Linked DNA regions of Homo sapiens: all the other regions are linked to region 2. The links come from fine-mapping of genetic effects on gene expression. A gene starts in region 2. Each other region holds a variant in brackets. All regions are shown on one strand. Distances are from middle to middle.

Region 1 (8,105 bases), 91 kb after region 2:
TGGAAAAGAACTCACGAAGCCCATTGTTTTGTGTCTTTGTTGCCACTGATTAACTGTGTGGCCCTGGGCAAGTCACGTCACTTCTTTAGGTCCCAGTTTTCCTGATTTGAAAAATGAGTGGTTGGAGTAAAGTATCTATAAACCCCACACTGTGCTCTTTGCTCCACATTCACTTTTTTTTTTTTTTTTTTTGAGACAGAGTCTCCTTCTGTCACCCGGGCTGGAGTGCAGTGGTGCAATTTCAGCCCACTGCAACTTCCACCTCCCGTGTTCAAGTGACTCTCCTGCCGCCTCAGCCCCCCAAGTAGCTGGGATTACAGGCACCTGTCACCACACCTGGCTAATTTTTTTGTATTTTAGTAGAGACAGGGTTTCACCATGTTGGCCAGCTGGTCTCAAACTCCTGATCTCAAGTGATCTGCCCATCTTGGCCTCCCAAAGTGCTGGGATTACGGACGTGAGCCACCCGCCCGGGCTCTGCATCCACTTCTTCATGGCACGTGGCCTCAGTGAGCATTCAGACCCTCAGGCTGGAAATGGCGAGCCTGGGGCCCGGGGTCTCTTGTCACTGGCTGGAGGTGTGCCTCCTTTGCCTCTACCAGCCACCATTTTGGTTTCTCAAGGAGGGAGCCGGTGGGCTGCGGCACAAGCTCTGTGAGCTCCCAGGGACTCCTGCAGTCATAGTCTGCCTTCTCTGGTGGTTCTGGTTGTCCTCCCTGGGCCCATGGCCTGACTGACAGCCCTTTTTGTTTATATCTGTAGGTAAGGTTCAGGGGTGGAAGACGGAGGGCATGCAGGCAGGGCTTACAGGCCTCCACTCCTGCAGGTCTCTGACGCAGCCCTCCTCTCTGGCCAGGCTTTGAGGGGTCTGCTCAGACAACTGCTCTCTCATCAGGCCTGATCCCTGGGAATGGTTACTCCATGGCCCAGCTTTTTCAGAGCAGCAAAGAACTCCTGCCATAAGAGCTGTCTCACCATTGTTGCGTCTCATCCTTCTAAGGACCTGCTGTTTCCCAGGGAATGGCTGCAGAGCCAGATCACAGAAGTTAGGTGACTTGCCTGAGATTGCACTAGGTCTTGGGCCAGACACAGTGACTGAACATGTCTGCTCGATTCCCAGCATCATGTGCTTTTCTGGTACATTGTGTTGCCTCTGAAAAATTATCTGAAAAAATTAGAAGGTGATGCCTCATTTAGGATCATAGACTCTTGAGCTGTGGGATTGTCCAGTCCAAAATCTGAGATCCAGAAAGGTCAGTTGTGACTTGTCCCAGCTCACACCACTAGTGAGTAGCCTAGTCTAGTTCTTTGAATCCTCGTTCAGTGCTCGCCCCATCAGACTGCTGCCTGGAGGCTGTTGGTGGGAGCCAGAGGCTGCTCGAGTGTTGGGTCCTGACAGCCCTGGACTTAGTCCTCTTAAAGCACCTTCTATTTTTAAGTAGTGCACGTTATTGAAAGAAGTGGGTAGAACAGCAGTGGATGGCATTACCCATTCATTTCTTCTCCTGGCAGGTCTTTGGGGGACACCTATGATAGTTATAAAGTTCATTTTACTAATTCACGATGGTGCTGATTTTCTTTTTTTTTTTTTTGAGAAAGAGCCGTGCTCTTTCACCCAGGCTGGAGTGTGGTGGTGCAACTGCAACTTTTGCCTCCCAGGATCAAGCAATTCTCCTGTCTCAGCCTCCCAAGTAGGTGGGACTACAGACACGCGCCACCGCGCCCCGCTAATTTTTATATTTTTGGTAGAGATGGGGTTTCTGCATGTTGCCCAGGCTGGTCTTGAACTCCTGACCTCAAGTGATCTGCCTGCCTCGGCCTCCCAGAGTGCTAGGATTACAGGCATGAGCCACCGCATCCGGCCAGTGCTGATTTTCTTAATGCCTTTTATCATAGCTCATCATTGGTCACCAAACCACTATTTCAATTATGGTTATTGAAATATCAGCCTAGAATCAGCCTATTGAATCAGCCTATAAGAATAGATTTGGTTATTTTGATTAAGGTTTGGTTGTGTCTTCATGTTCTAGTACACAAATAACTGTTTTAATAAACAAGTAAATCAAGAAAACCCGAGGCACGGCTGTGGTGGTGAGAGGGAATGTATGGCTTGTTCTTTCTTTAATACCTTCCTGGATATTGAGCTCACCTGACCTGTTCGCATTTGAAAGGTCGTCCCTGATGGCCCCTGGAGGCGAAGCTCATCACAGGATGAGGAAAGGACAGAGGCACAGAGAACCCCCAAGAGGAGATGGGGCTCTGGGAGACGGCCAAGGCCTCGGCCATTCTCTGACTACGGCCAGCTGGCCAGCCGCAGTTTGTCTATTCCTGAAGACTCGGTTGCTGCAGACCCCCAGAAGGAAGACCGTGTGGACGAGGACCCCCAGGCAAGCATGACTTCTGCCAGCCCTGAAGACCAGAATGCTCCAGTGGGCTGCCCCAAAGGAGCCCGGAGAAGGCGCCCCATTTCCGTGATAGGTGGGGTCAGCTTGTATGGGACCAACCAGACGGAGGAACTGGACAATCTTCTGACCCAAGTAAGATCTGGTGTGCACTTCCCCAAGCCAGCAGAGGCCCTCCAGCTTCCTGCCTCTATTCTGTCTGCACACTAAACTGGATCTGCTTTTTCTCTCCCGTTCTCAAGGGCGGCACCATGTACTTAACCACCTTTTCTTCCTGACTGTGTGAAAACATGCATGAATTCAAACTAACCACCTGACGTTTGGATGCCTTTTGCTAATCTTTCTTTCCTGGGATCTCAAATAATACATGAGACTCATTTGCTGTTTGTTTCTGAATAACCTGAGATTCTAACCAGGGAAAGGTAGCAGGGCATATTTAGTAAGACTCCTGAAAGAAGTAATTGTTGAAAAAGACAGTATTGTTCATTGTTAAAATGTAAAGATAAAATGTAAAGAAGAAATAAATAAAATGTAAAGAAGAAATAGTTTTTTAGGAGATGAGAAAGTATTTTGTTTTCCACCATTTTCTTATTTTTTTTTTGAGTTGCAACTTTGCAACTATTAATAGTTTGACAATGGATTAAACACTTAGTACTGGTTTCTTAGTATAGTTTAGTAATTCAACAAATATTTATCCGGGTATCCAGTGAGCACTTTGAAAATACAAAACATTTAATTAAAGACCCTATCTTGGAGAAGTGTATACTTATTTGTGGAGGCTAATACCTTGGCCATGGTAAACATTCACAGAACAATATATGAGTAATATATATGCCCACTTTCATTTTTAAAACCTGGTAGCTGATGTCGTAAGTAACCCATAAAATTATCTTAAAAGGGAACTCCTATGGAGTACTAGTACTGGATTGTATACGTCTACATTTTTCCTGTAAAGCCCCACACAATGCCTTGTCTATAACAAGCACTCAAAAACTCTTGCTTAAATAAATTGAATTGATTTCTTAAGGTTAAAAAATTAAGTTGCAGAATATCATGAAAATGTTAAGAACCTTTTGTCTGAAGGTGCTCCGCTGTTGGGAAATGATTCTGTACTGAAGCAAATTGTCACGCATTTTAACTCAGAACAATAGTCCAGGATGCTCCACAGCCTTAGAAAGGGTTTCACTTCAGAGCAGCCAAAAGGAATGTGCGAAGTAATTTTCTGTACTATAACCTAATGTAGGGAATTGAGTGGGAAAATTGTAAGAAAACCTAAGGAATTACATAAGCAGGATATGCATGTAATAAACAAAAGAAGAAAAAAAGAAATCTAAGGAACGTATAAAGCAACTGGGCCTTTGATTAATAGTTTTAGGGATCGCTATTATAGAAAACCAGAAGGGCATTATAAGAGAGACCTGGGCAACTACATGGAAAACCACTTCTTTCAACTAAAGCTCCACTGCCGTGTGAGTTTGGGTAAGCAAGGCTTGCCTTCAGCTCCACAAATCCTTACTGAGGGCTCATCTATGCCAGGCTCTGTGTCGGTGGGGAGGAGTAAATGAGGCTGAAGAAGGATGTGAGGATCACAGATGGCCACCCTGGCCGGGTTTGTGGCCTTGTCCTGGCTTCCTCCAGAGGCCACCCCTGGGAAAGCATCTTCTTACCCTTGTGACCCTGCATCTGTGTGACAACTCCACTGCTTCCTAAATGTGCCTTCATCTTCTCAGAAGCTTCTTTTTCCTTAGTGTGACCTATTGGCATGTTGCAGACAAGTGAGATGAAACATGAGGCTGCAGGGTGCGGGCCAGTAAGCTGATCAGGATTGTTAAAAACTGTAGCATCATGAGTTGCCACTGGGCTTCGGTGCAGCCTGCAACTCGTGGCAGGATTGGAGAAACCATTTCA[C/T]GTCTGTGAGTGGCTTCGAGGTGAGAGCGCTATGCGTGTGAGGTGCTTGCAAGAGCTGCCACTTCCTGGTACCTCCTCACAGATTTTGCTTTCTTTTTGCAGCCGGCTTCCAGGCCGCCCATGCCTGCTCACCAGGTGCCACCCTACAAGGCTGTGTCGGCCCGGTTCCGGCCCTTCACATTCTCCCAGAGCACCCCCATTGGGTTGGACCGTGTGGGACGCCGGCGGCAGATGAGAGCATCCAACGGTGAGTCTCAGAGTCCCTTTCCTTTCAGAGCTGCTATGGGCCCATCTGACCGTTTCCAGCTAACCTGAGGCAGCAGGTTCTGCACCTTCGCGCCTCCCTTGGGCCAGGGCGCGTTTGTCTGGGAGTGAGGACGGCTCATCTCAGGAGAATGGTGCATCATTTGCTGTCTGGGGTAGATGCTCTGTGTGCCAGGCTGGTGGCTCTAAGTTTGAGAAGTTTGCCCCTCCTGTGGTGTCCGTGTACATACATTCCTGCATGTGGAGATCCCTAAAGAACCGAGACCCAGGCTAGAAATCCGAGATCAACACGTCAGCAGGGTCAGTTTCTTCTGAGGGCTGTGAGGGAGGGTCTGCTCCAGGCTGCTTTCCTTGCGTCTGGTGCCCTCAGTGTTCCTTGGCCTGTAGGAGCATTGCCTCATCTCTGCCTTCATGTTCACATGGCATTCTCCCCTGTGTCTGTCTGTGTTCAGATTTCCCCTTTTTATAAAGACACCAGGCTTACTGCATGTGGGCCCAACTTAGTGACCTCATCTTAATGTGATTATCTACCTAAGACTATTTCCAAATAAGGTCACACTCATGGGTACTGGGGGTTAGGACTTCACCATCTTTTGGGGGGACACAATTCAATCAAAAACGTATACCATGTTTGTAACAATATGCAACGTGTACCCATATGGCAGAAGATTTTGAAAGAACAGGCAGAAATAACAGTAGCATTGTTAGGGTGGTAGGAATGTAGAGCACTTCTCCTCCCACCCCGTACCTGTGTACACACAGCCTTTCCCTGCTTTCTGTAACACTGGTTTTTGTTGTTATGTTAAAAATGTTTTAATTTTAGCGTTCTTTTGTCGAAAAGCAACAAAACCTAACTCTGGCTGTCTTAAGCAAAAAGGGAATTTATTGGAAGGGGGCCAGGTGTGCCCAGAATTGATGGGATGGCTGGGGAACCAGGCTAGGGAAGGGATGGCATCCAGGCTCACTCCTGGGAGTGGAGGAGCCACCGGAAGGTGTGTGATGGGAGACTGGCCATGGCACTGTCCCAGGAGCTAGTGAGGTATCCAGTGAGCACTTTATCTGGGTATCCAGTGAGCGCTTTGAAAATACAAAACATTTAATTAAAGACCCTATCTTGAAGAAGTGTATACTTATTTGGGGAGGAGTTATAATAAGGAGTTAACTTATTAGGAGTTAGTGACTGTCTTTCTGTCACTCACCCAGGGGTTCAGGTCCCAGGATGGAAGATTCAGCTGTCCGAGCTTAGGTGATATGTCCACCACCTGGTGGTACTGGAACAGGAAGAAGGGTGGGGTGTCTGTCTCCAGGGACCCTTGCCTTCTATATGTGAAGACAGGCCAAGTAAGTATTTAACAGAGCAGACAGTACTATAAAGAAAAATAAAACAGGATAGAGAGCATTCATTTCCAAAGAGTGTTATTCTAATGACACTCTAATGAACAGGATGCACCTGTTCCATGAACCCTCTCTCTCTTCCCTAGAAGGAGACACCCAGATCCTCATCAGTGGCAGCAGACACCTCCAAGTCTAGGACCTCTTAGGATAACTAGTCCTCCAGTTCCATGCAGTGCCTCTTCAGCGTTGATTAACTAGAGGCAGATTTAAGCAACACATCCCTACCAGAATGGCAAGGCAGGGAAAGGAAGGAAATAGAGAATTTGGGATGCTGTGGAGAATAAAACGTCATGCAAAGTTTACATTTCAGCATTTGAACAGATTCCATAAGTCAATATGTAGGATGCACCAAGGCACCAGTGACGGCCCTGCAGAAGATGACTTTGGGTAATGTGAGGAGTAGGAGCAGGTGGGGGAGATAGCCTCCTCTCCAAGGAGGTGACGCTGGGGACAGGTGAGTAGGAGGCAGTGAGGCAGAGATCCGAGGGAGGAGAAGTCCTAGCCGAAGGAGCACCAGAAGCCCAAAGACAGGCAGGAAACATGATGTGTCTGAGGTTCAGCAAGGAGGCCACAGTGACAGGAGCTCAGGGAGCAAGAGGCAGACGAGGATGTTGCAGGCTGGGAGGTGGGCTGAGGCTGGAAAGGGCTCTGCAGGTCATGAGGAGGCTGAGCTTGTTCTAAGTGTGGTGTGAAGCCATTGGCAGCAGGAGCATATTATGTTCCGGTTTATGCTTAGAGAGGGAGGGCAGTTTGTGGGGGGAAAGGAAGAGGAATGGAGATTGATTTGAAGGCGATTGCATTAGTCCATTTGAGAAATATGGTAGCAGTGACCACAAAAGCCATCCCCATTTTCCGTGGGTGCTCATTTTCCCAGTGGTACGAAGAGGCAAAAATGGCCAGCCTTGGTTCTGATTCACTGTGGCCAGGACTGTGAACTCTGGAGGAAGTACTTCTCCCTTGGGCACTAAATTCAGTTTCAACAGAGCAGAGTTCCTAGGTGGGAAGAAAACATTTTGCAAGTATATTATTAAGTAATCCTAAGAAGCCGCTTCTATGTTTACCCTTGGTTTCCGGCCCTGCATCTTCTGCTGTGGGCCAGCCTCTCCAAATTAGTCACTGCTTCAGAGCTTGCGTCCCATCCAGGGCAGTATGGCAACTTCTGGGTGTGTCTCCCAGCTGCCTCTGTAACTTCATTTTTATTTGGTTGTTATTGGGTGTGATGGGGTCATGTGCTTCCTTCTCTGTGACGTTCTGGGCCTGGATGGCGTGTGAGATGCTGCGACAGGATAGGGGCCTTCTAGAGGATCCACAGAGTGCAGGAAAACAAATCCAAGCCCAGCATAAGTGGCCCTTCCAGTAGGGACAAATCACCACCCCCTCTATTATGAAAAGGCCCCACTGCAATCAGCTTTCCGCAAGGGGCTGTCTGGTTCCTGCGGGGAACCGTATCATCAGCTTTGTTGAGGGGAAGGCCCAGACTTCCTGTGGTTTAGCCCAGGCTTGGCATCCATTTTTGCCACCATGGCCTTTTTCTTGCTTGCTTCTTTTTTTTTTTCCTTTTTATGAACCCACTGAGCAAGTATCAAGATGACTAGGAAGGAAGACTGGCATCTAGCTGCACATTGGGACAGCATGTCCACATGATGATTGATTAGCCTCTCTTGCAATAAGGATTCATGTAGGATGGACATCATCTCATGCTCTGCGGGTATTCTGAGGTAGCCAGTTATACTCCTTCCCCAAACCCATCCTCAGCCCATCTTGTTCTTTCCACATTCCTCCAGGCCATTCAGCCAGGCCATTAGCTCCTAACCAGGAGTGCGCACGAGCTAAATCCTTGCCTTGCCAAAGCCATCTCTCCTACTCAGAAAGGCTTGGGAAGAGTATTGCTTACATTTGCCGCCGGGAGTTTCCCTGTCCTGAGGACACAGTCACCAGGCTGATGGTAGGAGTTCTCTTTGAGAAGCTAGGAAGAAGACTTGTAGTAGGATGCCTACCCTGAGGCTCCCTGGCTCTGCTCCATCAAGAGGCCTGAGTCTGGGAGTTGAGTGAGGGCCCTCCCTTGTCTTCTCTGTCATGGTGGCTCAGGTCGGGCTCTGCTTGCCAGCCCTGGAGAGTTCCTCCTACACAATGTTG
Region 2 (8,105 bases):
ACCTTGTGGCTGTGTGAATACTGCTGCTATGAAAGTGGGTGTACAAATATCTGTTCGAGTCCCTGCTTTCAGTTCTTTTGGGTATATCCCAGAAGAGGGATTGCTGGATGATACGGTAATTCTAGTTTTTTGATTTTTGAGGAATTGCCATACCTGTTGTCCACAGCAACTGTGAGGACAGCGTGAGACCGTTTATTCTCCTCTTTTGCCTGTAGCTGCCCTGCCCATTCGTATTCCCCCCTCCAAACCCAGGTGTGATGGGGGCCCTGTCTCCGAGCAGACAGGGAGGCACCGTAGATGGCACACTGGATCTGGCTCCTGGCCCACCCCATCTGTACTCTAGTCCTTTGGCCTTGATGACCCATTCCTGGAGGCAAAATGCTTTCCTCTCTGTGCCTCAATTAATTGGGTTTCCCAGCACCCCAATAGCCAAATAGATACTTATGTGCTAAGATAATGTGATAAATGCCAAACATTATTCTGTCATCCTAGGAAGCTTCAAATTAGAGAGAGATCTGCTCTAGTAAACTGTAGAATAAAATATAGCAAACGCACCTTATCCATTCTAATCAATGATAGCCACCAGTTATTGAGCATTTGACCACGTGCCAGGCAGTGAGCTGGGACTTTACATACATTATTACACTTAATTTTCACCATAAGATATCACAGATAAGGAGCCGGTCAAAGTGAGGTTATGAAGTTTTCCTAGAACCCACATGGACAGAGAGCAGAAGAGGCTCAGGTTCTCTCCTGCTCTCTTGGGTCTTGCCTTATGTGCCAGAGGCATCTGTGGTTCAACCAACCCCCTTTTGTCCCCTGCCACCTTCACAACCAACAAGATGCTGGAGGCTGCTAGATGAAGATAAAAATGTCAGTGATATTACTGACAAAATCATCTGGAGAATGAGTGCACAATTGTTGCTAATGATCTCTGAGTGACCTCCCAGCTCCTTTGCCTCTGCTTCCCTAACCCGGTCTAGACCTTAAGTTACTTCCTCCAGGTGAAAGTCTGGTCTGTGGCATCCAGACACTGACCGCAGATTTCTCCCAGCCGTAGTCTGGGCGGAAAGGTTAAAAAAGAGTGAATACTCTGTGCTGTTAATAAATTAATAAATCAGGTTATTCTATCAAGGGAGTCTACCAATGGATTTCTCCAACCAGTCAGGTAACTCCTTTTTCTTTTTTTTCTTTTTAATATATTTTTTTGAGATGGAGTCTCGCTCTGTCACCCAGGCTGGAGTGCAGGGGCGCGATCGCGGCTCACTGCAAGCTCCGCCTCCCGGGTTCACGCCATTCTTCTGCCTTAGCCTCCGGAGTAGCTGGGACTACAGGCGCCCGCCACCACGCCCGGCTAATTTTTTTTGTATTTTTAGTAGAGACGGGGTTTCACCGTGTTAGCCAGGATGGTCTCGATCTCCTGACCTCGTGATCTGCCCGTCTTGGCCTCCCAAAGTGCTGGGATTACAGGCGTGAGCCACGTGCCCGGCTGGTAACTCCTTTTTCTGCAGTAGAGGGTGGGGCGGAAGCCATACGGGTTACTTTATAGGAGCTCCTCAAAGAAAAAAAACTGAAATGAGGAGAAAGGAGTTTCCTTTCTGCCCTGTACCTCTTGAGAAACCCCTGCTGAATGGAACTTTCAGCAGATGGAATACAGCATTGCTTCTCCCCAACCCTGGGGGAGCTCACAGCACTGCTTTGTTCAGAGCATTTTCAAACAGGAGCATGAGATCAAATCCTGGCTCCACTGCTCACCAGCTGTGTGACCTCAGATGATTCGTTCAACCCTTCTAACTTCATTTGCCCCATATATAAAATGAGAAGGATAACTGTACCTCAAGGATTGTCTTGAGGATTTAAGAAAATGATGAATGTAAACAACGTGGCATAAGTGTCCAACAAATATTAAGGGAAAGACACATTCTAGTTTTGGAGATGTTATGTGGAACAACAACAAAAAAAGCGCGTTAGACTTAGTGAGAGGTGGTAGTTTCTATCCTTAGACACTCTCCTGCAGAAAGCATCAGTGTTGTTAGGACGAACTTGGGTGAAAGTTTTGAATATTCAGGCTCCAGTTAGAGTCTTGAGTACCAAAAGATCAGCAGAGAAGAAAAGAGGTCACCGACCTTTGGAGGTTCCCACTTGCAGGAAACAACAGAATGCAGATGCCGGCCTTGTCTGCGAGGCTGTGAGTGATGGCGGCCATGTGGATAGAGAGCCATGTTGACAGAAAGCCACTGCGGGAGACCTAGGCTTTTACACAGAGGCCACATTGTGATTCCCGCAGGAATGGTAGAAATGGAAGGAAATTTAGCTATTGCTCGTCCTAATCTCTGACTTAACAGAATGGAAAAGCAAGAATAAGCGTCGGCTGGTGATGTACTCCCGTGATGAACACAGCTGGTTAGAGCCAGGTTGGACTGCGCCGCCTCTTCATGTCAGATCAGTGAATTTTCTCTTGAGCCATCCTGCCTTCCTCTAATAGATTTGTAATCTGAACCCAGACATATCTTTTATCCCAGGCGCTCAAAAGGTTTTCACTGAAACCCTGAAAAAAATATTTTTTAAAACTCACAAACAAACAATCAGCAAGCACCTGTATGTGCTAAGTTGATAGATAGTAAGAGTCTTACATGGGCTAAAGTTTTAATTCTCCACCCAATGCAGAGTGAGGTCCCACTGTCACCGGCTCACTGACGAGGAAGCTGAGATTCAGCAAGGTCCAGCACTCGCCCAGGGCTTGTACAGGGCCTCAAGGATGCGGGGGTCTTCAGGTCTAGTTGGTATCACTCCACAGAAATCCATTCATCTGAGGGCCAGGCCTGTTTCCCAAGGACATAGTTTCAAATATAGTGCTTTCTTCACTATAAAAAGTATTGCATGTAAATGTTAATAGTGGTTTCCAAGTAGGCAGAAATAACCTTTTGAAACACAATTTTTTTAAAAGAAAAATCAAAATCTGCTCCTCAGATTTGTGCTAATTCTAAAGAGATAATAAAAAAACCCTCAATTTAGACCGTGATATTTTTTTTTAAATAATACTAACATAGATTTCATTTTAGCATTTGTGAGTGCTTTGTGCAGATTTTTTATAGAGTAGAAATAAAATGGAACAGTCAATGATATTAGCCTCACATACTATGTTTCTAAAATTTTCCAAGGTTTGGTTTTTATATTTTTTCAGCTTTAAAAATACATGGTCATTGTTAAAACTTGGGGTAATTTCAATAACAATTCAAAGAATTAAATAAAATTTGCCCATATTTCCACCACCCACAGATAATTATCATTAATCTTGGAGTGTGCTTTAATTAATAGACTATTTTTAGAGCAGTTTTAGGTTTAGAAAACAGGAATGGAAAGTACACGGAGTTCTGATGTACTCCCTCACGCCCCTCCCTCCACACACAGCTGCTTGTACTGACATCTTACATTCGAGTGGCACATGTGTTATGATTGATGGGCCCATGTTGTTACATTAAGATGAACTAAGTCCATTACTTACAGGAGGCTCACGCCGCATGCTGTTCATTCTGTGAGTTTTGAGAAATGCATAATGACATGAAGCCACCATTATAATGTCATACAGAGTTTTTTCAATATTTTAAAAAACATACATAAAATTAATTTTCACTTTTCATTGGGTAATATAATTTTTGTTTTTTATTTTACAGATTGTGGGTATTGTTCTTTGATTATAAAAGACAATAGACATTTATAAATAATAGTGCTGGCCACTAAATGAATCATCTAAAAAACTACACTGGTAGAAAGCATGCATTTATTTTATGAATTCCATTAGCTGCCTATCAGGGAACATGGAGCACTGGGGCACAGATCCCAGCACAGAAGGGTTTGCTTCTCTTCTGTGGTTTTCATGTCAATTAATGATTAGGCCTTGAGCCTCACAAGAAAGGTGATAGGCCTTTGAGTCGGTTTACTGCAACAGTCTACTCAAGACTTGCCCCAGGCCCTGGGAAACATGTAGGTTTAAAAATCCCTACCCTGCGTTTTCCTTTCACAGGGAGTGAACTTCTGGCCCAGGCAGTGGGCAGTGGGGCACGGTTGCCCCGGAGATGAGACTCCTCTTCCCGCCCTGGGGGGTGGGGGCTGGCTGGTGGCTGAGGGAACTATTTTTGTTTGTTTCTTTTTTTAAAAAACGGAGTCTGGCTGTGTCCTCCAGGTTGGAGTGCAGTGGCGCGATCTCGGCACACTGCAACCTCCGCCTCTCGGGTTCAAGTGATTCTCCTGCCTTAGCCTCCTGAGTAGCTGGGATCACAGGCGCCTGTCACCACGCCCGGTTAATTTTTATTTTTATTAGAGACGGGGTTTCACCATGTTGGCCAAGCTGCTCTCAAATTCCTGACCTCAGGTGATCCGCCCACCTCGGCCTCCAAAAGTGCTAGGATTACAGGCAAGAGCCACTGCGCCTGGCCGGGGAACTGTTTTTGATGGGTGGGGTCCCCGGCTGTGGTTGGTAGTGTGGGGGCGTGGCCGAGGGTGTGGCCTGAGGGAGTGAGCTAACCGGGGGCGTGGCCTGATATGGGGCGGGGGGAAGAGCCGGGCTGGGGGCGTGGCCTGGTGGGGAGCGGGGCTGGGGCGTGGCTTGGCTGAGTGTGCTGCCGCGGCGCGGGAGGAGAGTGTGCGTTGCGCTTTCTCCCGCGATCGCCCTGCCGGTCGCTAGCTCCGAGGGCGCGCACTGGATCCCAGGCTCCTCCGAGAGTGCGGCGACCTCGGGGCTCCGCCGGCACCGGAGGTGGCTCTGAGGGCAGGGACGTGTTGGACACGCTGACTTTGTAGGCTCCGCCAAGAGGCGCCGCAGGAGGTAAGACGGCTTCGGGCGCGCGGCTCTGCCGGGCGGGCGCGGGCATGGGCTGTTAGGTAGAATATCGGGAGGATTTGAGTCCCAGTGGACTGCCTCGGGGCTTCGGGATGTCCAGCTCCCAGCTGCTTGGCCTCTGCTTCCCCCGCCGGTGGAGGCTACCGGGTGCTCACCTGTTAGGTCCGTGCGCCCGCTCCCTGCCCGGCGGTGGCTCTGCGCCCTCTGGGCCACCCGGCACCATCGCTTTTGGGAGGACATGCACGTGGTGTTCTCGCAAAAGGCCGTTTCCAGCCGGAAGCCTGCAGGGAGGTCGCCTTGTAACTTCACCCGCGCTCCCAGCTCGCGGGGCCTGGCCTACAGGGGCGGCCGTGGGGGTGGCAGAGTCTGGGGAGCCTGGCGCGGCGGAGCCCTGTAACGCTCTGCTCCATCGGGTGGCGTGGCTGGTGCCTCCGGGGACCCGGAGCGATGCGGTTGGAGAGCTTAGTTTAGAAAGCAAGTTTCTCTTGGTACCAGCGGAGTCTCGTCCCAGGGGAAAGATTTTGGGACCCGGTGCCCATCGTCTGTGGACTGCAGGGAATGCATTGGCGGAGTTGGTTTGGTCCCATTCTGTGCAGGAGGTGGGGGAATTGGTACTCCAGCCCCAGGCAGGTAGAAGCCCGCGCTGCTGCCAGCGTCAGGGGGAGCTCGGGTGACTTGGGCTGGGCCACCCATCTGACTGCAAGGTTACAGAGCTTGAGCAAATTTCCCCTCCCTCCAAGTGCAGGAAAACCAAACCAAAGCAAGCAAACAAAACCCTGTGGGTCATTTGCTTCCCAGCATTGCATAGGGATGTGGATAAATAGAATAATACTGTGAATTTATTCAGCTCTTGTTCCCATGGCTTCCCATAGCCTTATATTATGCACCTCCCCCTGCCAGCATTTTCTCTGTCCCCACCTTCGGTTTTTGCTGCCTCGTGTTTTCTTCTCTGTGAACCTTTCCTGGTCACCCAGCGATTTGCTCTCCTTTATTCCCCTTGCTAACAGGCGGAGAAATCTCACTCCTTTTCTTTTTCCACCTTTCCCAACAAATTCTCCTTTTTTCCTAATGTCCCCCTCCCCCGTCTTGCAAACTTCCTCACTGCATTATTCTCGGGGTGCCTGTCATGCACCCTCCCTGTTCTCTGCCCTCCTCCCGCACTTTAGAGTTTCATGTGGCTTTGTCTTATTATCCCATATCCTAATTCTCATCTACCTCCCTTGGCCCCCACGTTTGCCATCTGCCTCCACCCAGTTCTCCCATCTCCTTCCTTATTTGTGCTCCCGTGCATATGCAGGTTTCTTCCTTGTTTCCCCATGTTTCTCCCACAGGTGCTTTCTTCCCTTTGCCCTACTTCTCCCTGGCAGGCGCTCTGCCCAGCCACAGCCTGCCCCGCCTGGAGGGCACACCTTGCCTCAGTGCCTTCTGCTGCGGTTTTCCATGCTCCATCAGCATCCCTGGGTTCCTTGTGTTCTTCCAGTCCGCCCTCTGTCACCTTGCAGACGGCTTTCTCTCCGAATGTCTGCAAGTGTCAGAGGCGAGGAGTGGCAGCTGCATCTCTGCAGGAGGACTCTGGATTTCAGGACCCTCCCTTCTGCCACTGCTTCTGACTGATTGTTTTCTTATTGAAGTCGTATCCTCTACATAGTTCTAGAATTAATGTCAATATTGATGTTAGGTAGCATCTACCAAACTCTGGGTGTGTGCCAAGCACTGTTCTGAGGGCTTAACGTGCATCAGTACTCATTTAAAATCCTCCACACATCCCTATAATGTAGGATCTACTACTGTCCCCATTTGACAGATGAGAAAAGGAAGGCTCAGAGGAGGTAACCGGCATGGCTTCTTGCCACTGCCTAGCAGTGGAGGCCCTCTTCTCACCAGACAGTGGAGCTTCCCTGCTGGGTGACCTCTTGAACTCAGGCATGCCTGGAGTTTAGCTTTGGAAAGGAGGTTGTTATATGACATGTTTTATTTAGTCTGCAATGTACACCAGTGGAGGACATGAATTCTATACCTGTAGGACAGTGCATGGAGAAAAACCTAATGCCGGCTGTCCCTCAGAAAGCCTGGGGCCAGTGCCTGGGCTGTCACCTCATCCATGCTATCAGTCTACTTTCCCTCTTAGCCACAGGAAGCCCTGAAGAAAGTGGCATAAAAATGACCTGGCTGGGCACAGTGGCTCATGCCTGTAATCCCAGCACTTTGGGAGGCCGAGGTAGGAGGATTGCTTGAGCCCAGGAGTTCAAGACCAGCTTAGGCAGCATAGCAAGACCCCATCTCTAAAAAATAAAAATAAGAAATCAGCTGGTTGTGATGGCGCACTCACCTGTAGTCCAAGGTGCTCAGGAGGCTGAGGTGAGAGGATCTCTTGAGCCTGGGAGGTTGAGACTGCAGTGAGCTATGATTTTGCCACTACACTGCAGCCTGGGTGACAGAACGAGAGACTCTGTCTCTAAAAAAATTAAGTTAAATTAAAAAAGAAGACTACTGCCAGCTGTCTCCTCCCGTGCATTGAGAGTTCCGTTTCACTTTAGCTGGACAGATCTTTATGGTCTCTGTTAGCTGTGTGACTGTATGAGTCTTATTTATATCCATTTCATTATGTAATCTTAAAGCCTTGTCCAAACATTTCTTTTTTAGTCTTTATCTTCCTAAGAGTTGGAGGCAAGTAGTATTTCTACTTTACAGATACTGAAGCAGAGCATGCACCTTGATAGCTGAAAGGGACTTTATATTCTACAGATGAGGAAACCGTGGTCCAGGGAAATAAAATGGCATATTCAAGGGAAAGCAGCAGGACAAAGTTGGCTCTAAGGCTTCTCTGGTTCAGGGCTCAATGCCTGGCCCTATAGCTTGGTAGGTTGACCTCTCTGTTTGCTGCTGGAAGCAACAAAGTTTCTTTCCCCTTCCTTTCCCTTGAGCTAAGAGGCATTGGAAGGTTTCACTTAGAAGGGGAACTCATCAGTGCTTTCCTTTCTTTTTTGTCTGAAAACTAAACATTTAAGAAATGTTTGCCTATGAGACATGTAATAGCATAAATGGGATCATAACATCACAGTGGTATAAATTCAAATGTTTTAGAAAGAACTATCATTGTTATTTCTAAAACACCAGGAATGAACACCAAATGTACATGGTTTTCTTGAGGGAAACTATATAATACATGGCAATTTGAAAATCAGTACCTGGAATGTTTAATTGTATTTTACATTTGTGGAGAGAAATGCATTGGTACAAAGTGCTTACCTGATTTTCCTCATCT
Region 3 (8,105 bases), 120 kb after region 2:
ATTTCTGTGAGTATTGTCTATTTGTCTATTCTGTGAGTATTGGACTATTTGGACTATTTAAATGTGAAAGAAACTTTGTACTCTCACACTAGGAAGCCATAAACTCTAATCCTCACATTCTGAAAAGGAAGTAAGAAAAAACAAGACTTCACAGACAGGCTTTTCCCTGGCTGCACTACATGGATACAATAGGATGCTTTAGAAACAGATCTTGTCTCTGTTTTTGCCCTAAATAGATGCCAGCGCCTCGCCTGAAATGAATGGGAACCGTAGATGGCAGCTCGAGGCAGCCTGGGGCCCTGTCAGAGCAGTACAGTTTGTAGTCTGTGCTTTCTTCCTTGTTTTGATTGGTTTCTGTGCTGCTGACAGACAGAAAGCAGGGATGTGGTTACGGCTTCTGTGTCTGGTGGATTATCAAAACAAGACTGGTGTGTACTCCATTTTACGAGCCAAAATTTAGAAAAAGGAAAAAAAAAGTTGCCTGGCGATTTCTATATTGAGAACACAGACCACATGAGTGAGAGGGCTCGGTAATGCTAGCGAGACGGCACTGGCAAGACCTGGGTGGAGGAAGCGGACGTGCGGGTGCTCCCTCCCAGGGTTCCTGCACCCATGGCCTTGAGCAGGGGCGTGTTCATTCCCACCGGGAGTGCAGCCAGCACGAACGGGCAGGGGTGGGGGGCAGGTGGCCCCTGGCTCTCCTCCAGCATTCCTCCACCGCCTTCCACACAGGGGAGGCCGAGGGAAGCCCGACCCAGCCTCCAGCTCTGAGCGGTGCTCCCTCGGTGCTGCTGGAGAAACAGCATGCCAGAATCTGCCCTCTGCGGCCTTGACCCTCTACAGCAGTCCCTCACCTGCCTCTCTGAGAGGGGCCTGGGTCAGTGCACTGCGGAAACTGTTGCCACTCCTATATGCGCTATACTGAGTGAATACATGTAATAAAATGACAACAAGCACCATATTTAAAACAAATAATAAAGCTTGCCTATGGTGGGTTTTCTTTCCTTTGAGAGCTCTGAGAGGGCAGGGGGCAGGGGAGGGGTTGTGGGGCTCTGAAAGACCCTGAGGGACTGCCTAGTGGCTCCCAGGAGGACGCCATGTCAGGGAGGGCGGGTTTATGGGTTGTCTGCCATCTTATGCTGTCCTGTCCTGTTCTCCTGTCAGTGTGAGTTGAAGCCGAGCCTGAGACAGGCTCATAGCAGGATCGCTTTGCTGGCAGACACACCTGGCTTTGAATCCAGCCCCGCAACTTGGGGAAAGTTACTTAACATCTTTGAGCCACGGTTTCCTCCTTCATAACCAGACAGCAACACTCCAAGATGCTTGTGAGGCTCTCAAGAGGATTTATTCCAGCGCTGAGCGCAGTGCCTGGCGCACATTAAGATGCCAGGAAGCCGGATGGGTGATTGCTCAGGTCTGTCCAGCCAGTTGGGCAGCCGTCAGAAACTGGGAGGGCTGACGAGACACCAGCCCAGAGAGCTGTCAGGGAGCGGCAGAGCAGAGGAGAGGGCCCAGGATGGATCGGCAGGTGTCAGCCAGGATGGACGGGAGGAGCCGTGCTCAGAGCCAGCAGCCCCAGGACGAGCAGCTCCTGGCTAGGAACAGAAGACAGGCACTGTGGGACAAGTCAAAGGTAAAACCTAAGAGCTCACCGCAAGATACAAAGAAGCCCAGAGCCAACGACGCCCCAGCTCTGAACTGGAGACGGGACAGAGGCTGAGTTTTGAGAGCAGGAGGGAGTGGAGCTGCTGGCTTGGTTGTGGGGTCTGGAGCCAATGGGGTGTTGGCTGCCCAGGGTGCAGGGCCCTAAGTTGAATACTGATGTGAAGCTATACATTAAGAGAATGATTCTTCAAAGCTCCTTAGACATTAATAACAGATTATTAGTGAGAGTTAATATGTCAGTTTCTAGGATTCCTTTTGATCTTATTGTTGTCCACATGTTTAAAAGATTGAAAAATACTATTTGTGAAGAATGGCTTGAAAGTCTAGATTAGATATACTAGTGACTTTTCCAACACTAACAGTTTACATTCTGGAACATGAAACATATTTCATACTTTAATTCAGTCACCCAACACTGACTATTAAGCATGTTCCTTGTCCTTGAGAAAGTCATAGCTAGGATAAGAGTAGGGACAGGATATAAAGGGACAGATATAAACTTAATAATAACTATAATGTAAATGCGATACATATTTTAAAAGAGGTTAGTCTAACATGTTTATAGAACATCAAAGGCAGATATTGTTATGGCAGAGGATCAGGGAACTGAAAAATAAGTCATGGAACCGTCACCAAGCAATGATGGTTACAACTTTTGTTTGTTGTTTGGTTGGTTTTTGTTTCCTTAAGTTTATTTTTAAATAGAGATGGGATCTTGCTATGTTGCCCAGGCTGGTCTTGAACTCCTGGCCTCAAGCAATCCTCCTGCCTCAGCCTCCTAAAGTGCTGAGATTACAGGCATGAGCCACTGCGCCCGGCCAATGGTTAAACTTTTGAGGGATGAGCCAGAATTTGATGGGCTGTTTTGGGTGGGAAAGTTGCTCCAGGCGGAGAGGTCAGCGTGGACGGATGGAAGGATTTTGTCCTATTCGTTGGAATAAGGAACATTCAGTGGTACACATTGGCTAACGCAGAGGTTTCCAGCCAATGCAATCAGAATCCATTGCCTGCAACTTGTGGCTTGCTGCATGGACAGGCAACAAAAGGCATATGTCCTAGAACAACCTGAGCATGTGGTGTGGTTTAAGTAAGCTTAACCTGAAGGTCCAGTGGTTCCCAAATTTTTCCAGGTGTCAGAATCATTTGAGGAGCTTTTCAAAATAAATTCTCAGCCAACATCCTTCCCCACTACCACCACCCAACCTGACTCAGTGGCCCAGGGCAGGGGAGGATCTTTATTTTTCTAAACATTTTCCATGTGATTAGATGCCACAGGCCCTGGGTGTTTGGGAACCACTGAAGGGGGATGGACCCTGGAAATTGTGCATCATGTTTTGACGTTGTCAGTTCCTGTGACCCAGCTCTTTCCCTCTGTGTGCATCTCCGTGGCCTGAGCTCTTGGGGTTCACCCATAGTTTCAGCCCACAGAGCAGCAGCCCGTGACAGCTGCTCCCAGCTGTGAACACGAGCTGCCCGCCTGGGCTTGCCATTTCTGTTTTTAAGATGGGAAGTCAGAATGGCTTATCTCAACTCTGAGGAAGTCTGAGCCATCAGCAAGAGGTTTTCTCAAATACATGATTTTAGCAGATTATTTTAAGGGTGGGGGAATTTCCCTGAAGTCAAGGGAGGGGAAATTCCCCACCAAGGAGTGATGCTGGGTGGGAGATGCTGGTCGGGAACCAGCTGCTCATTAGCTAGGCAGTGTTGGAGAGTGCCTCATGAAAATAGCTAAATCTATGTCTCCTTGTTGTCAAGTGCCTGATGTTTAAGGGCTGTGTTAGATCTCACCTCCCTTTC[A/C]TTTAACAGAACACCTCAACCTCCACCCTGTTATCACACCCTCACCAGGACTACCCTCCCCCACTTATCAGTCAGGGGCTTTTTTTTTCCTGATGTCTTCTCTAACTGTATTTGTAACAATCCTTCCAATTTAAAAAAATGACACCTCCTCTATGGCTACCACATTGTTCTCTGTAGTAGTTCCTAAAGCTAAAAGTGGCCAGGGCTGAAAATGGGGACTGGGGCATTCTACTCACTGACAGCTGCAGCCAGGAGGAAAGCAGAGAGGGGGAGGAAAATGAGACATTTGTGTAAGGGATGGACTGGGGAAGGACCAATGCAGCCCCAGGAATCAGGGGCCCCCAGAGGGCAGTGTTTCTAGGAGTGATGGTTAACCATGGTTATTGAACAAGAGCATTATAAATTCACTTTATTACATTTTTGGAATTGATAGTACTCTGTGGAACAGATGTGTTCTCTTGGAATTGTCCCCAGTCAGAGAGGCGCTGATGGTCAGCACGCAGTTTTGATGACCAAGGGTGTGCTCCTTCTACCTGACTGAAGCTGCGGGAAGTGTTGTAGAAAGAGCCTGCTCTGTCTGCTCTCATATTGATTGTATGTAGGCATTTGGGGTTTTAAAACTGATTTCAATTTGGAGCAGTCTTTGCTTCTTGTTTACAAGATCGTTTCCAAAAATGGCTTTTTGGGCAAGGTGCAGTGGCTCACGCCTGTAATCCCAGCACTTTGGGAAGCCAAGGCAGGTGGATCACCTGAGGTCAGGAGTTTGAGACCAGCCTGGCCAACATGGCGAAACCCCATCTCTACTAAAAATACAAAAATTAGCTGGATGTGATGGCACGCACCTGTAATCTCAGCTACTCGGTAGTCTTAGGCAGGAGAATCTCTGGAACCCTGGAGGCAAAGGCTGCAGTGAGCTGAGATCGCGCCACAGCACTCCAGCCTGGGCGACAGAGCAAGACCTTGTCCCTCACCCCTCCCCCAAAAAATGTTTTTTCCACACCAATTTTTTCAACAAAAGAAACTACGGTTGGTGAGAATGTGGAGAAATTGGAACTGTTGCGCACTGTTGGTGGGAATGTGAAATGATGCAGCCATGTGGAAAACAGTATGGAGAGTCCTCCAAAAATTAAAACTAGAACTACCATTTGATCAAGTATGCTAAAGAGTTGTAAGCAGGGTCTCAAAAAGATAGTAGCACATTACTCACAATAGCCAAGTAGTAAAAGGAGCCCAAATGTTCACCCACAAACAGGTAAACAGAATGTGGTGTGTATACTCACAATGGAATATTTTTGGTTTTTTCCTTTTTTAAAAATCAATGGAAGTGCTAACCAAACAATGGAATATTATATAGTGTTTAAAAAGAAGGAAGTTCTAACACTTGGTACACATGAATGGATGTCAAGGACATTATGCTTAGTGAAATGAACCAGCCATAAAAGGACATATACTGTATGATCCCATTCATATGAAGTATCTAAAGTAGTCAACATCATAGAAACAGAAAGTGGAAAGGTGGTTGCCAAGGAACAGGAGAGGAAGAAGAGGAAGTTGGTGTTTAATATGTGTGGCCGTTCTGCAAGATGAAAAAGTTCTGTCGTACAAGAGTGTGAATATACTTGACACTGCTGAACTGGAACTGTGTGCTTAAAAAGGGTTAAGATGGTAAAAGAAAGGAAGAAAGAAACAATAAAATTTACTTTTTAATTATTATAATACATTCATTTCTCCTGATTTTGGTGACATACATTTTGAGAATTTATAATAGCTTTACAGCGTCAAAATTCCCTTAGATAAGAAGTCATCATTATTAACTTTCATCTGTAGTTGAGGTTCAAAGCCTATTGAAGTTAGTGAGGAATGGAACATGTAGAGGTGAAGAAGGCAGCAGCACCGGCCTGTGGGTCTGGCCATTGTGAGGAACTCTGCCCAGCAGAGCTGGCATTGACACGCTGTGGACTACTACATCTAAGATTTTTCAGCTGAACTGCAAATTGCTATTTCCCCATCAGCAATTCGTAATTCAATTGAACAATGTCTACTGAGAGTATGTGACACTTTAAAAAGTGTTCAAGTAGAGTGGAGTCAGATTACAGAGAAGATATACCGTAAAAGAATTTTGTTATGAAGCAATAGACAACTCGCATGTCATTTCTTGTGACATCATAAAACCACTGTTTTAAGAAGTTCACCTTGGGCCGGGCGCGGTGGCTTACGCCTGTAATCCTAGCACTTTGGGAGGCCGAGGCGGGCGGATCACAAGGTCAGGAGATCGAGACCATCCTGGCTAACATGGTGAAACCACGTCTCTACTAAAAATACAAAAAATTAGCTGGGTGTGGTGGCGGGCGCCTGTAGTCCCAGCTACTCGGGAGGCTGAGGCAGGAGAATGGCGTGAACCTAGGAGGCGGAGCTTGCAGTGACCCGAGATCGCGCCATTGCACTCCAGCCTGGGCAACAGAGCAAGACTCCGTCTCAAAAAAAAAAAAAAAAAAAGAAGAAGTTCACCTTGGAAGTAATATATAGGATGGCTTGGGGAGGGAAACAGAGTCATGAAGACTGGCTGAGGGATTTTTCTAGCTAGAATCTCAGATGAGCACAGGGGTGGGAGTCAGAGAGACCTGGGTTCCTATCCTGGTTCGGACCCAGCCCCTGTATAGCCCTGATAAATGACTCAACTTCTTGGAACCTCAGTTTCCACATCAGCAATTTGCAGTTCAATTGGAAATCACATACTGAGTGCCTTCTGTATGCCAGGTACTATGCTAGGGGCTGGGAAGACAAAAATCAAACGTCTGTCCTTTCCTTTAAGTCTGTCCTGTCCTTTAAGATGGTAAGCGACCTAGACAGTAAGCGTGGGGAATCATAGAAAACCACCAGGCCTGGACGAAGCATCAAAGCATAGCACAAAGATTCTTCCTGTCTAGACATCAGACACTGAGAAATCCCACTCCATAAAACACACTTGAATTATGGGACAGGAACACAGGAGTCATTAACTTTAAGGGACTTTAAAATCGTGAAAGTAGTTAGGGTGGTGAAGGGAAAAGGATACAACCAGAAAATGGAATCAGGTCCTTGACAGGCCCCACTGGGAGCAGGGATTGGTAGTTGGAAGGAAGGGTTAGTGAGGGAACGGAGGGCAGGACATACGGCTGCTCTCCAGAATGGGAGCAAAACACACAGATTTGGATACTAACACTGTTTTTAATATCATTTTGTCTTATTACAAGTAACAGCTACTGCTGGAGGAGACAGTTCTGCCCAGTGGGTAAGAGTTAGATGGCCTGAGCCTGCTGCACACAGCTGTGTGTTATTGGGACTTGAGTTTCCTCATCTGCAAGTGGGGACAACTGACAGTACCTCCCATGTAGCATTGTCATGAGGATTATATGAGCCGGTTCATCTCCACAGCTTAAATCAGTGCCTAGCACATTATAGGCACCTGATAAAATAACATCTTGCAATTCTATTTTTAATTTTTTTTTAATTTATAGAGATGGGTCTTATTATGTTGCCCAGCTTGGTCCCAAACTCCTGGGCTCAAGGGATCCTCCTGCCTCAGTCTTCCAAAGTGCTGGGATTACAAGCATGAGCTACCACGCCCAGCCACATCTTGCAATTCTATACTGTTTTTCAATTTACAGGGTGCTTTCATGTATCATCATTCCACTTGAGGCTCAAAGCACACCAATAACAAGTACTTGTTCAGAATGTATAAACAACCCTGAGAGATGGGTTTTATCATCCACATTCAACAGGTGAAAAAACAAAGAAAGAAACTTGACCAAGGACTCATACTCAAAAAAGAAAAATATAGAAAAGAAAAAAAATGTGCATCGCTATCATTTGAAGGCAAGTTCATCTGACCCCAAAGCCTTGCATGAAGTCCACATGCTGTTTTTCTTTCCTTCCTTCCTTCCTTCCTTCCTTCCTTCCTTCCTTCCTTCCTTCCTTCCCTCTTTCCTTCCTTCCTTCCTTCCCTCCTTCCTTCCTTCCCTCCTTCCCTCCCTCCCTCCCTCCCTCCCTTCCTTCCTTCCTTCCCTGCCTCCCATGTATGCCAGGCAGGAACACAGTTAAGAATAAAGCAGACAAGAATTACTGCCTTTCTGGAGCTTACATTCTGGATAGTGAACAGAATACATTATAGACGGTGACAAATGCTATGGAGAAAACTAAACCAGGGGAGACAGTGGAGTGAGAGTGAGGGTTGTGGTTTTGAGTGGTATGGTGAAGGTGAGAGAGGGAGCCAGTGTGTGTGTACCTGGGGAGGGCTGTCAGGCACACGGAGCAGCGGCCCTGGGCAAGGAGTGCCTGCGGTCTTTGCAGCCAAGAGCCCATTGGTTGGAGAGGGGTGGGAGGCACAGTGTATCTGGGGAGAGGTCTCAAGAACTTTGGCTGTCTCCCCTGTGGATGATTCTGAGCAGAGGAGTGACACAATCCAGTCTAGGAATGGTTTGGCAGCATCGCTCTGGCAGCTATGGCCTGCCGGGGGCAGGGGTGGCAGCAGGGAGACCAGGAGGGGCTGCTGGAGGGAGCCCGAAGCTGGATGGGAACCCAGGCTTAAGTGGTGGGAGGGGACCCAGGCTTGAGTGGTGGCAGAGGGGTAAGAGGTAGCCAGATCCTGGACACTTTCAGGAACT
Region 4 (8,105 bases), 140 kb after region 2:
CTCTCCCTATGAAACTCAGGATGCCGCATCGTCCATTGCAGTTAAGGCGATGGTACTTCACACCCAGTGTTACATTTGTACTTCTTTGGTTTGTCTTCCCAGCTTCTGCTGACCTGGAGGTGCAGTGTGGCCCCTGAGACTGAAGCTGCCATGCCTGGCATTAATGATGGCAGCACCCACAGTCTCTGAGCCTCTATTTCATTGCCTCCCAAGCTCTTTAGGGTTTTGAGCACAATCTGTTGAATGGAAGTCAGGGAGCCACAGTGAAGGATATTCATCTCTGCAGCCCAAGTGAGCCCAGCCCTCAAAAGTCATGGTCCAGGACGGAGGGGAGCCAGCATACGCCCCTCCCCATCCTTGCCCACTGCCATGAGGACAGCAGGACTAAAAACCAGGAGGTGCTTTTTCTGTCCTCCCCAGCCACTGGCTCTAAGCTTGGCTACAGAATTTGGTCTCACCCACAGGAGGTTTTGTGAGATTCTGCAGTAGAGTTGGAGGGATTTACAAGTTGGTCAGGCTAAAACGGAAGCAGGGATCGACTTGGAAACACTCAATGGGTAGACATTGGCCTGGACTTGGGCCACTCCAAGATACAGAGCTCCCCACATCACAGGCAGCCCCTTACACCAAGTGTCAGGGTGTCCTTTACACTAAGAGGAAATCTGATTCCCAGCAACAGCCATAGATTATTGGTGCAGACTCTGGGGCCCCATTGGAATAGGGCTAATCACTCGTGCCCAGAATTCATTTGAAGATGACAGTTACTAAAATGCAAAATGACAGAGCCACAAAATCTTAGTTTTAGTCGTCATATGACGTTGTCTAGCGCAGGCCCTGAAGTCATCTGTAAGTCAGAGTGTTTGGATTCCCAAAGACGGCACTATTTAGTGGGGGCATCCTATGTGCTTTCAACAGTGTCTCTCAATAGGAAGGAAAGGAGGGGCCCGATGTGGTGCCCTTTGCCATGTAATGCTCCCTGTGGCCAGTGCTCAGAGATGCAAGTGCATGACTGAGGCACTCCTGAGCCAGTAAGTCTGTGAACTGGCACGTGTGGGATAAAACTGGATGCATTCCTTGCCTCGAATATTTTGGCAGCCCTCGTACTTGATGCATGTGTGTGGGTAGAAGCTTCAGGTAGCAGATCAGAGAGAATGGACACGGAGGGCCTTGGAGGCAGGGACAGCCCGGTGGCCAGCGTACAGAGCCTGAGCCTGACGTCAGGACAGTCTGGGACAGATGTTGGGCATGTGAAGGAATCAGGGCCAGGGGAGCAGAGTGGGCAGAGGTAGAGAGGGAGCCTCGGGAGCGAGCCAGGCAGTGCAAGCTAGCAGACACAGGGCCTGGGTCAGCTCTGCCAAGCTGGAGCGAGTACCTGCCTACAGGAGGAAGGCTTCCCGCGGGAGAAGGCAGGGCCCCAGCACCCAGCCCTGGCCATTCAGCTCTGTCCTTCCTTCTCCTTCCCCACACCCTGCGAAGCCAAGGGTTGCCTCATCTTGTCTTTCCAGTGACTCTTGTTTCACCCAGTTCACACACTGCACACGTACACTGTCACTGTGCTACTGGACTTTACAGTGAGGGAATGCTCAGGGCACACACTACACACAGCTGGGGTACAGAATCCGCTACCTGCTACTCACGTGGTACCTTTGTTCAGGGTGGAACTGCTAACGTGCAAAGCTCTCATAGCGTATGGGTGAACACGCCCTGGGACCCTTTGCTCTGTCCTCTCCTTCTGGGGCCTCATCCTTTAGGTTATAATTGGGATGACCCTGTGGGAATATTTGCCCGGGAGCGTCGGGCTTCACACAGACATTCTGCATTCTCATGAGCACCACCCCATTTCACTCTCCAAACTGTCCGGGTTTGCAGGACAATCACATGGCCACCTTGGCGATAATCCTTGTGACTTCCCCTTTTCTGATCTTCAACCTGTCCACGTTCTTTGAGGATTAAGGTTCTCTGTCTCAGGTTGTGGTGATAACCTCAATGCTGATATGGGCTGTGATACAAGTTTTGCTCTGAAACATGTCCACGTGTTCTGAATATATATCACATTTATTTCTAAATGCAGGAATGGAAATTTCAGAAAACCAGAAGAAACTTGCCATGTTAAATGCTCAAAAGGCAGGACATGGAAAGTCAAAAGGTAAGTTATGGAGAAGGCTTTGTCCCCTTAATGCTTATCAGTATTCTCCTGAAAATGGGAGCATACCCCAAGTTGTCAGCCTGTGACCAGCTTGGAGCAAGGAGAACAGTAGAAGTTAGAACTCAAGGGCAGGTCCAGAACAGGGGCCAGGTGAAGGTGGCCTGTGTTTGGTTTTGAATGTGCGTCAGTGTTTGCTTCCATTGGAATGTGGGCATAGGAAACCTTCAGAGGGGCTGCTGGAGGGTGGTGGACCTCCTTGCCTGCCTGGGGCCCCTCTGCTCCCCTCCCCCAAGTGCTGATGGTGTTAGCCACAAGGTCACGCACATCCCCAGTCTGAGGCAAACCAAGGACTCTTGCATCTTTTAGGCATGAGAGGACAAAATCTCAAACCCCAAACTGCTTGTCAGCTGTAGGCTGGATATAGTCTAGTTTAAGTAAGAAAAAGATGTAAAGGTTCGGTACATCAGGCAAGGAGTTAGACAAAAAAAGACACGTGAGCTGATTTAGGGCGGTGATTCCCTAATCTCCATGCACATTAGAATTCCCTGGGGAAGCTGTTCAAAAATGCTGATGCCCAGGCCGCATACCCAGGGGCTCTGATGCACTAAGATTTGTCCACACAAATCTGGCCCAACAGGATGCAGATAATCTGGCCCAACAGGAATTCAGTAATAAGGATTTTTCCCCAAAAAATATGCACTGTATTCTTAGAAACTTTATTCCCGTCATCTTTCTACTTTAAAAGGCATTTACCCCATGAAATGTATCTCTTTTGGTATTTTCCTGACTGCAAATGCAAAAACAAGGACCAACGAATCCCAGGACTGCAATAGACCACTGACCTTTAGTCAGTGAAGAACTGATTCCCCAAACCACACTTAACACTCCCCTGCTTTCTCCATGCAAATGCAGAATTTCTTTTCCCCACTAAGTTACAAATATCTTTAAGGCAGAAAAACCCATGTTATTAATTTTTTTAAATCTCCACTTCTAATGTCAGATGACTAGTAAATCAATTTGTTAGAATACATTGTTTTCTGTCCATATCTTCTGCGAGTCACTCGCCCAGCAGCCAGGCTTCTCAAGAACGGAAGGACTGCTGACGTTCACAGGTGGCTACCGGGTGGGACGCTGTGCCTGGGTTATCTGATTTCTTCCTTCCTGCCACCTCGGGAGGTAGGGAGAGCCTTCTGGCAGGCCAGGGGCAGGGACGGGTTCTGAGCCAAGGCCTTCCTGCTTTCAGGGCCCACCCTCTTCGTGCCATGCTGACTTACACAGTTACGTTTTAATCTAATCGCTAATTTTAATAAACCTTCTAAATTACCTCTGCACAGATTAAAAATACCTATGCCGGTGAAGTTTTGATTAGAGTGATTAGATATTGAGGGCACAGTTCTAAGCACTTTACTTCTATTAATTCATTTAATTCTCATAGCAACCCCATAGGTACTGTAAT[C/T]CCCGTTTTAGGGATTGGGGAACCAAGGCGTAGAGAAATCATATCATTTCCCCAGTAATCCCAGCTGATAAATGGCACAGAAGAATTTGGGCCAAGGCAGCATGAGCTCCAGACTTCCATTTAGAGCATTTTATTGCTACTCACCTTGACTGTCAGTCTGGTTCAGATTCTGCCACTTCCCGCTGCACGTCCTGGCATTCAGTTTCTTTCCCTGTCAAGTTGTTGTCATAATACCCTCCTTGGAGGCTTTTTGGGAGAGTTCAGTGAGAGAGACTGTGTCACGCTCCACACGGAGTACCTGAACATAACAAGTGTAGCTACTGGACCTTCTTTTTGGTTAACGTGAATTAAGAATTAGCTCTCTACAAAAAAATATAAAAATTAGCTGGGCGTGGTGGCACACACCTGTAGGTCCAGCTACTTAGGAGGCTGAGGTGGGAGGATCGCTTGAGCCTGGGAGGTAGAGATTGCAGTGATCCAAGATCACACCACTGCACTCCAGCCTGGGTGACAGTAAGACCCTGTCTCAAAAAAAAAAAAAAAAAAAAAAAAAAAAAAGAATTAGCTGAGAACTTGGACTTGGAGTCTCAGCATTTTTATTTTTTTCCTTTCTGGTTAACAAGCGACCCTCAGTCCCTGTTCCATCTCTCTCCCCTCCCGAGTCAGGCTACAACAGGTGCCCTGTGGCCCCACCGCACCAGGGCCTGCACCCCATCCACCAGCGCCACATCACTATGCCCACAAGCGTCCCCCAGCAGCAGGTCTTTGGCCTGGCGGAACCCAAGAGGAAGTCCTCGCTCTTCTGGCACACCTTCAACAGGCTCACCCCCTTCCGGAAATGAAAACAGGAGGCTGTGCTTCCATGGAGCTGGGTGTCAAGAGAAGAACTGTCTTTGTTTCTTGTGTGCTTCAATCCAGGGAAAGTTTCTTGGACCCAGTGATAAAAACTTCCTTTTAGGGATCAATGAAGGAGAGAAGGTCTTGGAATCACCTTCAGTCTTTGGAGACCCAGCTGCCTTTGTGGAAGGGAGGAGACGGTCATGACACAAAGCTTTATCCTACACAGAAACACCCGTGACCCACTATGAGATGGCCCAGATGTGGGACCCGGTACCATGCTCTAAAGCGAGTGATTAGGCAGCAGCTGAAGCCACCCCTGCTGATGATGAGCAAGTGCCTGCTGCAGGTCCAAACACAGCATCCAGGGCTTTGCAGTTCCTAAGGAGTGATGAGGTTAGAGGATCACTTCTGCATTTGATTTTCAAGGATGCCGTCAAGACGGGGTTGACACAATGCTGCACGTGTCTGGTCACACTTAGAAATTGAGCTCTTACTCTCTTCTGTAATACTGGGGGACCTACAGCTGCCGTGGGGCTGACCACGGTGTTCCCTGGCATCGTCTGTGTCCACACAGATGCTAACTGGTAGTGCAAATGTCATCCTGCAAGGTTCCTCTTCCTGCAAGCAAAGTGGAGAGAAAGAAGATGCATCTGTCACCTTCATCAGGGTCCTCAGTGCAGAGCAACTTACGCATCCTCAAGAATCCACTGCTTTTCAGGCAAGGAGGGAGAAATCCTGCTGCACACTGGCTTTGTCCCGGAGTCGGATTCCCTCCTGCCTGCACGCCTTCAGTAACTCCGAGCAGAAATCACATCTTGCCCACATGCTGTAACCTAAGAAACTGCTATGCAAGGCTGGGTGCTGTGGCTCATGCCTGTAATCCCAGCACTTTGGGAGGCCAAGGCAGGTGGATCACCTGAGGTCAGGAGTTCGAGACAAGCGTGGCCAATATGGCAAAGCCCAGTCTCTACTAATAATACAAAAATTAGCTGGGCATGGTGGCGCATGCCTGTAATCCCAGCTACTGGGAAGGCTGAGGTAGGAGAATCTTTTGAATCTGGGAAGCGGAGGTTGCAGTGAGCTGAGATCGCACCACTGCACTCCAGCCTGGGAGATACAGCGAGACTGTCTCCAAAAACAAAAACAAAAACAAAAAACATTCAAACAACTGTTTGCAATATAAAAAGCTCATTTACTGTAATATTTATGATACAGTGAATATGAAAATGCACTGGTCAGAAGGCACTCTCAAAGAGCCGCACTGCTCCTGACATCGTCCTTAGCAATGAAGTCACAAAGACAGCCAAAGCAGTCCTGCTTCTTGGAAATCAGAAGCTGCCTTTATCACATATAAAGCCAAACAGGGCATAACCATGTCACGTGAGCATGTCATCAGGCTTCTGAGGACTTGTTCTTTATAAAAAAAGACCTTCACAAAATATCTTGGCTTAGAGATAGCAGTCTTTATTAACAAAGGCCACCTAGGCTGACACCTGCAGATAATCATCTCCTTTTCTTTGTCTATGTTGTACATTTTCATGATATAACTTTTAACTATGTCTAGAGAAGGCAGGCTCTGCAAGAGAGGTGCCCTTTCAACCCGCTCAGTGCCCTGGACAGGAGATGCTGTGTTAAACTGTTAATGGATATCTATATGAGAAGCTCATTTTTGTATGCTATCCCTGCAGTTTTTTTTTTTCTAACAGGCCCATGTTTGAGAATAAACAAGTCTGTGATGTCAGAGACAAAGGTGTATTCTTCAGTCTGCAGGTGTGTGGCACCTCCCTTCTCCCCTGCAGCCCCCCACATCCAGAGCCGTTCCTGAGAGTGACATCATGCATCAAGAAAACATAACCTTGGTCCTCAGGTGAACCCTTGGAACATTCTGTGACCGCCTGATGTCCATTCTGAGCCACCTTGGCACACATGCTTACAGGCAGCACTGCTAAGGGTTCAGGTGCCCCATGGCTGACAGCCCGAGTTGCTTCTGTGGACCATCATGCCGCTCGGCACGTCCTGAGACAGAAGTTGCTGCAGGAAGGAGCTTCTGGAGAGGTCCTGTGGCATGTGTGGGGGTGTGTGTGTGTATGTTTCCTTCTTGAACAGACATTCCAACTTTAGATGTGTTTATAGAACTGACCTTTTTACTAACAAAATACAATGATATATGTTGGAAACTACTTAATATGCTTTTCCTGCACACCTTAGCAATAACTGTAGGGGTCTCTGCTAGAGTTGTTTGTATGTACAGCAATTTTGAACAAATTGTTTTAAATGTAATATAAGAGAATTAGTTTAAGGAAGTAAAGAGAATCATTTGCTTGTGTTACATTTTCAGTGAGGATTCAGTTTAAGAGTCATTCTTAGGACTTCCATTTCCTAATATTTATTCATGGGTAATGAAGAAATGGTTTGCATTTTGTGGCCAGTCCTAATTTATTTTCCAGCTGAGCCCTAACTTCCGGCTCCCACCTACCTCCACGGACTTCCTAACAGAGACTTATGAATACCAGGATGTGTTTTTGTTAAGTCAGGTTCAATTCGTTGCCCCTGTCAGTTTTATAGAGTGTGAGGGTCACTCCATTAAAGATCTCTCCTGGGTGGATCCTACTTGGATGTTCAGGTGATTTTGAAAACTGCTAACATTTTTAAAAGGCTAGAACATCCTTTGACTTCTTGAAAATCTGCATGTCTGGCTTGGGTTTTATTACCACATGCCTGAGTTCTTCAAGAATGGAAGGCTCAAGTATTCTCATCTTCCATTTGCCAAACTTCCTTCCTGATTTGAGTCACGTGTTCCACTTGGAAAGAAAGGGAACAGAGAGCCTCCTCCATGGACAGTGTATGAATTTCATTGGGAATCTTGCTCTCTCCCGCCTCTATGCCTTTCTCTCTTTTTAACCTTACTTTACATAATATTATAGATGGGCCAAGAAAAGAAAAGATGACATAACATTTTGATGAATTTCACCTATTCCATTCTTCACGTTTCAGAATTGGTCGACTTTGTTAGAAGATAATTGAAGTAGCCTTGGGTCAAAAGCAACCTTTTCAATTGTGATCATACCTAAAACATATAAAAACCCTGCCGTAGATTAAAAGCAATTATAAAATCATAAAATTGAATGTTTGCAGAATCCTGGAGCAGTAGATTTCTTTGTCTTTGGCCTGCGGACTAGAAAGAGGGCAGCAGTAGTATGCTGGAGCTTCCCTGGGATACCAGCCACATGGTTTCTTTTCATTAGATCTGATTTTTGTTTCCCACTGTAGATCTGATTTTGTAGTTGAAAACATTTCACCACCATCAAACACTATTTCTGAATATTGTGCCTTTTTATACCTAGCCTAGATGAAAACCGATGCCATTCTTATTCAGAAAATCCCCCCATCCTACATGACTGTTATCTAGACATAAAGCAAAGTGCATTTAATTCAAAATTTGGTTCACAATATAAGTATTTTGTAAAAGCCAGCTGAACCAGCATTTTATCAGGTGGAAATCTCTGCAAGCCAAATTGCTGATACTCCTTCATGCAGATCAACTTGGTGTCCCAGTCAGAATAGAACAGCATAATTACCTGGAGTTAGGGGGAGTATTTCTGCACTATTACTTGTCAGGGAGAGAAGAAACTTAGAATTGTCCCTCAAAGGAGTGTCAAGAAG

Evidence for each region.
Region 1: its variant is fine-mapped to the expression of SPATA13 in whole blood (TOPMed, PIP 0.98).
Region 3: its variant is fine-mapped to the expression of SPATA13 in monocytes (TOPMed, PIP above 0.99).
Region 4: its variant is fine-mapped to the expression of SPATA13 in whole blood (INTERVAL, PIP 0.91).

What each region holds. Positions count from the first base shown.
Region 1 is chr13:24,247,306-24,255,410 of GRCh38, forward strand. SPATA13 (spermatogenesis associated 13) reads left to right here. Exons shown (of 13, transcript NM_001166271.3): 3 at 2,172-2,537; 4 at 4,413-4,557. It overlaps SPATA13-AS1 (SPATA13 antisense RNA 1), which reads right to left and starts at 7,134. Exons shown (of 3, transcript NR_046531.1): 1 at 7,031-7,134; 2 at 5,774-5,894; 3 at 5,444-5,651. RefSeq lists enhancers at 592-1,091, 4,423-4,557. The variant C/T (reference allele first, on the strand shown) is at 4,311.
Region 2 is chr13:24,156,108-24,164,212 of GRCh38, forward strand. SPATA13 (spermatogenesis associated 13) reads left to right here and starts at 4,613. Exons shown (of 13, transcript NM_001166271.3): 1 at 4,613-4,825. It overlaps MIR2276 (microRNA 2276), which reads left to right and starts at 6,309; the gene lies at 6,309-6,397. RefSeq lists a silencer at 4,504-4,563.
Region 3 is chr13:24,271,505-24,279,609 of GRCh38, forward strand. The region is part of intron 4 of SPATA13 (spermatogenesis associated 13); the gene reads left to right. Among named protein-coding and RNA genes, the nearest start is that of SPATA13-AS1, 21 kb to the left of the region's middle. RefSeq lists enhancers at 1-8, 3,117-3,406, 3,707-3,766. The variant A/C (reference allele first, on the strand shown) is at 3,463.
Region 4 is chr13:24,298,330-24,306,434 of GRCh38, forward strand. It overlaps SPATA13 (spermatogenesis associated 13), which reads left to right. Exons shown (of 13, transcript NM_001166271.3): 12 at 2,072-2,146; 13 at 4,269-8,105. The coding sequence ends at 4,444. Among named protein-coding and RNA genes, the nearest start is that of C1QTNF9, 7.2 kb to the right of the region's middle. The variant C/T (reference allele first, on the strand shown) is at 3,603.